Linked DNA regions of Homo sapiens. The protein of the gene in region 1 purifies or fractionates together with the protein of each later gene. This does not show direct contact. Each region holds a gene or a part of one and is shown in the gene's direction. Other genes may lie near its edges.

Region 1 (3,384 bases):
GTGCTGAGTAGTAAACACAACAGTGGAAAATATATGCTCCAGGAATATTACATTCCCTAGAGGAAGAGGACAATAAATAAGCAATATCAGGGATAAGTGCTAAGGAGAGAAGGTAAAACAGGGAAGGAAGATAAGAATATGTATGTGGGAATGGGATGCTGCGTTCAATTTTAAATAAGGTGGTCAAGAAGACTGCACTGCAAAGATGAGATTTGAGGAAAGACCTGTAGGAGGTGAGGGAGTAAGCCATACACTTGTCCCAGGGAAGAGTAGCCCAGCAAGAGAACAACAGGTGCAGAAGTCCTGAGGCCAAAGCAGGCTGAGCTTGTTCTCAGGTCAGTGTGGCAAGGGGCAAAGGGGATCAGTGCAGCTGGAGCAGAGTGAGAGAGGGAGACGATAAGAGAGCGGACAGGTCTTGGCAAGCCTTGCAAGTCACAGTGAAGACTGGTTTTGACCTTGAGTAAAACAGAAAGCCATAGGAGGTTTGGCACAGAGCAGGGACAGGATCTGATTTACATGTGAAGGGGCAGACCTACTCCTTAAAGAGTACCAATTTACACCCATCTCCACTCCTGACCCTTAGCAAGTGCTCATTAAATATATGTGACTGGCTGAAAGCATGATTCTCAGAGAGAAAAGCAGATAACTAGAGGATATTGAACCATCAGAGGTAGCTCATTGTGAGCCAGGGGCCTGTTTTCAGGAGCCCAGGCTGCTGGAAGAATAAACACCAGGGCTAACACCATTGCCTGGCTCTCTTTCAGTTGCTTGGTGAAGACCGATTTCAAGACATTGAAAAGATTAAGACCATTGGCAGCACCTACATGGCCGTGTCAGGCCTGTCACCTGAAAAACAGGTAAAGGACTCTTTGGACTCAGCCACAATGCATGGTGGGGTCTTGCTGTTGTCATGTCACCGACGGTGGTGAAGCCTCTGTCACCAAGATCCTTGGGGAAAGATGGGGAGAAAATCTAATGGACTGGATTATAATAGTTACGTGATGTGGATTTGCCCCCAAGGTAGGTAGAGTCTACCAGATGAAGCCACGCTGCTTTTTTGAGAAACTTCTAGGCTTTGTTCTGAACCTCATTGTTCCCTTGAACAAAATCAAGAGCCCAGAAATAGCCTATTGTGATTTAGTTGTGGATCTTACTAAACCCCTAATACTAGCCTCTTTTTTCCTATTTTGGTTTTGTCTTTCAAAAGTCTTACATCATAATAATAACAGTTGCTGCTTTTTGGAGTGTTGACTGTGTTCCAGGCACTGGTGTTAAATGGCAACACTGTCTACCTTCCAGGGTTAATGGATGAATTATCTCAGATAATGTCATGCTCCCCAAGCAAAGCCTTGCATCTAGTAAAGTCCTCAATTAGTGTTAAAAGAATATGAGTCCAAGATACTTGGGGAAATGGAATTCTCATCAATTTCTTCCAATCCTTCGTATGCTTTTTTCCAACTAAAAACAATAAAATACTTCAAGAGTGACTATCTGGGATGAAACTCATGCTGGTTATTATTTGGTACGTGTGCAGCAGGGATCAGAAAACTACAGCTCACAGGTCAAATCTGGCCCACCATCTGTTTTTATAAATAAAACTTTATTGGAAAACAGCCATGCCCATTCATTTATATTTTGCCTATTGCTCCTTTCAAGCTAAAATGGCAATGTTGAGTGTCACAACAAAGACCATATGGTCGACAAACCTTAAAATATTGGCTATCTAGCCTTTATTGAAACTGTTTGCTAACCTCTGTTCTACAGGGGCACAAAGTTCTCTCATATAAAAAATCTCATTCAATACCTACGAGGTAGGAAGGGCAAGTATGCTTATCCCCATTTTATAGATTTGGAAACTGAGGTTCAGAGAGGCCCAGAGGCTTATGCAGCACTTCCCTTAGGAGTTTTGTAAGCAAATGTATCCCTTAAACACACACTGTGAGCAATTCAAAGGAAATAGACACAGTTCTTAGACTGGAAAACTACACATACATAAGAGCACATATACACACACATACCCATACCCACACATATACCCATACCCACACACATACCCATACCCACATACACTCACGGCCACCCACACGCCCACACACCCCCAACACACACACACATACACACATACACTCATTCACACACATGCCAGTGAACATACACTACGGAATTGATGCTACATCAACCTGAACAGACAGGTGTAGATGTGGAAGAAGGAATACAATGACCCACATATACTACACTCTTGCAAGCAAATCTTATGTCTTCCCATGTTCTGAGATACCAGTGACTTGAGTGTAGAGGGGCTCACCCACATGATTATTTCCTTAAAGGGATGTGCAGGTAGGGTTGGGTTAGGACGTAAAGCCCCTGCTGCAGAAATGTTAATGTTCCCCCACATTCCGCATTAAATGATTTCTTCTCCTCATGTTTGCTTCAGCAATGTGAAGACAAGTGGGGACATTTGTGTGCTCTGGCTGACTTCTCACTCGCCCTGACAGAAAGCATACAGGAGATCAACAAGCATTCATTCAACAATTTTGAACTCCGGATTGGTGAGTAGCAGCTGCAGGTGGGGCCTGATAGAGCCAGCTGACCTTGCTCCAACAGACCCTCCCCTGCCTTGGGCATCAATCCAGGAAAGCTTTTTCCTGCAAAATGCAATAGATCTAGCATGACCCTGCCAAGGATAGGGACAAGGTCAGCTCAGGCCTTTCTTAGTTTCCTCTCAGTCAAGATGCTGGAAACAAGAGTAGGATACTGGCTTGTGTGCAGAAATACAAAGCAGCCAGCCTTTGGCAAATGCTAGACTATTGTGAACCCCTCTTCCAACTTGCCTGCCCATGCAAGGTCGTGCATAGAGATGTAGCTGACTAATCAGTCATTTAATTCTGACTCCTGGGTAGCTCAATGCTGGTGGTCAATGTATTGCTCTCAAGGTCTTCAGGATAATTCCTTCAGACAAAAGCAGGATTCTACTCCTGAGGATGGCAGATACTATACTTCCAGGGACAGGCTTTACTCAGCCACAAAGCTCGCCATTTCTTTGGGCTTAAAGACATCACCGCACAAAGCAACAACGTAACATTAATCACTGCAATCAATAATAATCCTTTATATTTGCCATTCCTTCCACATCTCTACTGAGCCTCAGTGACCTCCTAAAATGCAGTCTGAATATCCCTGGTCTAGTCCACATTCTCATTTTGTAGATGAGTAAATGCGGGCCTATGAAAAGGGAGTAACTAGCCTAAGATCACACAGTCACACCAGCAGCAGCTCCAGCATTTCCTAACTCTGAGACAATGACATTCTGGCTGCCAGAGTGCAGTTTAAAATAACTTTTGCTACGGTCCTCACACTGTAGACATCTTCTGGCTGATATGCCAT
Region 2 (3,830 bases), on another chromosome or scaffold:
GTAATTAAATTAGGGACATAATCCGATTGTTTCCAACATTTTGAGTATGGGAACTCCTTTGTTATTTTATTATTTTTCTCATTTGCAATGAACATTTTTATTAGGAAAGGGGAAGAATGGGAAACATAGCAGTTACTAACCAACCTGGACAGCCACTGTGGAAGCTTTTTACCCTGGTTGTTAGGGAAGTCTGTTGACCAAGGCCTGATTTTACTGTTGGAGAAAGATTCTTTCATCCACTGTTCTCCATGGCCTCTGAAAGATTTTTTTCCACCATCCTACTTAGTGTGGCTAAAATTGGCAGTGGGGAATATGTCTTCCCTTCCACTTCAGAGATTTTCATCACAATTCCTGTGCCCAGAAGTTTGTAGTCCGTTGCACATTGTGAGCCACAAACAGCCAAAGGCTGTTTAAAGTCTGAGCTGATGATTCCTTTAGCAATACTTATAGTGGCTTACAGTTCCATGGGACAGTGACTGCTCTCTGAATTCTTTGTGGAATATGGAGAACTCCTTTTTAAAGAGAAAACAATTATGCAGATTCCCCTCCCATGTGACGATAATTGTAATTGTGGGGTGTTTTGATTGGAAAATTACATAGTAACCAAAAGCTATTATGAATTTTAAATTTTTTTAATTGTATATATTTGATTTTTCACAATAGCATGTACAAACATTTGAAAAATAGTAGCAGTATACAGATGCTTATGCTATTTTTTTTGTTGTTCAGTCTTTGTGTGTGGTGTGGAATTCCTAGACCACATGTTCCAACACCTCCGCCACTACCACCCCAACCCCATCCCAAGACCCACAGGGCAGGACCCGTCAGTATAAACCATGACTCAGTTCCCCTACTTTACCAACATTTGGCATCACTTTAGTTATTTTAGAGCATAATTTTGAAGAGTTGTTTATTTTGTCAGACCAAATTTTGAGGCTGCCTGAACGGCCTTTATTTTGTCGTTAGAACATTTGGAAACATATACCTGCTGTAGGCTGGTTTCAGAAACTGGCTTGTAAAACCTGAATTTGAGTAGCAGGTAAACAGGAAAATGTATAAACAATCATTTTCTAAAAGACCAGTACTGATTAGAAGGGTGGGAAGTGCAGCTTCCTTCTAAAGCTGACTTTGAGCCTCAGTAATGAATATTTTGTTTTGTTTTAGGTACACACTTTTCATTGTGCTGTACCCAATGGGAGTGTCAGGAGAACTGCTCACAATATATGCAGCTCTGCCCTTTGTCAGACAAGCTGGCCTATATTCCATCAGTTTACCCAACAAATACAATTTCTCTTTTGACTACTATGCATTCCTGATTCTAATAATGATCTCCTACATTCCAAGTAAGTAAACAGTTATGCGTATATTTAATTATGTTTTAAAATTTGGCTCTACAATAACTAAATATCTTTGACTGTCTTTGCACTATATCCAAGTAAATGTAAATCTCATTTATTGGGAATTCTTGGTTTTTATTGAATGCTGACTATCAAAAGGAATTTTTTTCCAGTAGTAATTGAATAAAGATGAACCCTTCTCAATACAGTTGCCAAAATGCAGCCCTTCTCAGCATGTGGGTTTGAAACTGAATACCAGGCTAGGTTAAGTATGTATTGGGGAAAGTACTGAATGGAAAACAAAAAAGCCATTAAAGGCCTTACCTTGATTGTAGTTTTCTGTGTCTTAAGAACTGCTTGTTACAGTATTTGAAAAACATGATAAAAAGATTTTTGCATTGGTTACTATATCAAAATAGACATTTAACTTCATTTTGAAGGGATTGGTAGTTAACTAGAAACATAACAAAATAATAATAGATTTATTTTTTTCTAAATTTTTCATTTTCTTGTTGAGCACTGATTGGGACACAGTGTTCTCTTCAAGATGGTTTCCAATTATTTTAATAGTACTGCTGAAGATTTAAGTATATGGATAATCAAATGTGCCTATCAGTGTATTCAGTGACAGAGAAAAAGACATGTTTGATGTCTCTGTGAAGTGAGCCCTACTTTCTGAGGATGAGGAGTTTAGTCCTTTGCTGGAATTCTGATGTTCAATTATAAATCCTATGATTGATTTCTATATACCAAAAGATCTTCTTATAACCAACGACATACAGTGTTAGTGGTTCTTCTCATTTTGCTATTTCTATAACCACTGTAACTCTGAATCTTATTTTAATCTAGAAAAGATACTGTATTCTTCCCTAAACCCCAGGTTAAATCAGACAGGGTTGGACTTCTCCTCATTGCATGGCATCATCGGAATGAATCACCCTAACAAAGCGACATGCTTGTGTCCCTCTGTGGAAAATTGCATTTCATGCATTGTGAGAAAAAAACTACATCCAGATTTCATGTGAGTGTTTATCTTGCAGAAATTCTTGGATACAGTTCTGCTTCATGATTCATTTTCCACTCTTTATTCATGTTGAGTCCTCTCTAGTGCTGGAATCATAGCGACCAGAGGCCATCTCTCTTCAAATGTAAAAAGTGGTTGATTTTCAAACAGATGATAAATGTGAAATCATCTAAACTACTAAGTAATAAAAATTAACTGGTAGTTTATCACCTTTCTAATTTTGTTTTTTTTTTTTAGAGTTTCATTTTCCAGTCTCTAGAGCAGCAGTTCACAGTTGCAGTTTTACCACACCCGGAGTAACTAACACATATTATCCCAGTGGGCACCACAGGCTTTATTTGAATTCACCATAGTCAAATGAATAGGAGATATGTACCATATTGGGTGACTGGGAAAGGGGCAGGGAGGTTTTTATGAAATCAGATCCATAACAAGCTGCTTCCACACTGACAAAAATCTAGGCGTTCTTACCTGAGAGTTCCTGCAAGACTTCCAACCTCTCTAGGAAGCAGGGCTTCCTTCCAGGAACCACTCCCCAGGGCAGCCTCCATCTGTCTGCATGTTTGTCTCTTTATGCTCTGGTAGCCAACCAGTGCTGAGCTTTGCCTCTTCCTTCTGAGCTCTTGGTGTAGTGGCAGTGCCTGGGTACCACACGCAGCCTCCATGATGATAGCGTTCCTGAGGGAAACCCACTCCTGTGAGCTTTTCATCTTGGTCTTGAAAGAGATAGAGGAAAGAGAAAACACTGACCCCAGAGCCAGCTGTCTTTTAGAGCAGCAGTCCCCACAACCTTTTTGGCATCAGGGACCGGTTTCATGGAAGACAGCTTTTCCCTGGGCGGTGGAGGGGATGGTTTCAGGATGAAACTGTTCTACCTTAGATCATCAGGCATTAGATTCTCATAAGAAACATATAACCTAGATCCCTTGAATGTGCAGTTTACAACAGGGTTCACACTTCTATGAGAATCTAAAGCCACTGCTGGTCTGACAGGAGGCAGAGCTCAGGCAGTAATGCTCATTTGCCCACCACTCACCTCCTGCTGTGCAGCTCTGTTCCAACAGGTGGCGGTTGGGGACCCCTCTTTCAGAGAGTAGGGAAGGACTCTCCTCCCAACAGAAGTCTGCTTTCTTTACCTTAAGTAATTCCCCCTTGCAGTCTCAGCCTCCTTTTGGTAAGAGAACTTGGCTCAGTTAAAGTCTAACATAATTTCTTTTTCTAAGGCAGCTAACCTCTTGTAGACCGGAGAAAAGGGTGGATCTCAAATAATGATTAAAAGATTCCCTGCAAACCATTGACTCCTCACCCAGGTTCAAGATGGCACACAGACTACCTCTCCTGATGCGAGTCACCCTGGTGCCTGCTGGCCTCACTGTGCTGTGGCCTGAGCCAGCAGCTCTGGATGTTCTCAGTGGTTCAGGTTGTTACTGTTGAGGCCAGAGTGTACAGTTCATTCTGGCCAGCTGCAC

The links.
Region 2: the proteins of ADCY8 (region 1) and HACD2 purify together in Homo sapiens (affinity purification with mass spectrometry; one large-scale study listed by BioGRID and IntAct). This does not show direct contact.

Annotation. Positions count from the first base shown.
Region 1 is NC_000008.11:130,782,856-130,786,239, reverse strand, and holds part of ADCY8 (adenylate cyclase type 8), read left to right. Parts: intron 1-764; coding exon 765-857; intron 858-2,434; coding exon 2,435-2,549; intron 2,550-3,384.
Region 2 is NC_000003.12:123,498,028-123,501,857, reverse strand, and holds part of HACD2 (very-long-chain (3R)-3-hydroxyacyl-CoA dehydratase 2), read left to right. Parts: intron 1-1,164; coding exon 1,165-1,343; intron 1,344-2,217; coding exon of another isoform or gene 2,218-2,222; exon of another isoform or gene 2,223-3,830. UniProt on the Homo sapiens protein: Catalyzes the third of the very long-chain fatty acids (VLCFA) elongation four-step cycle (condensation, reduction, dehydration, and reduction).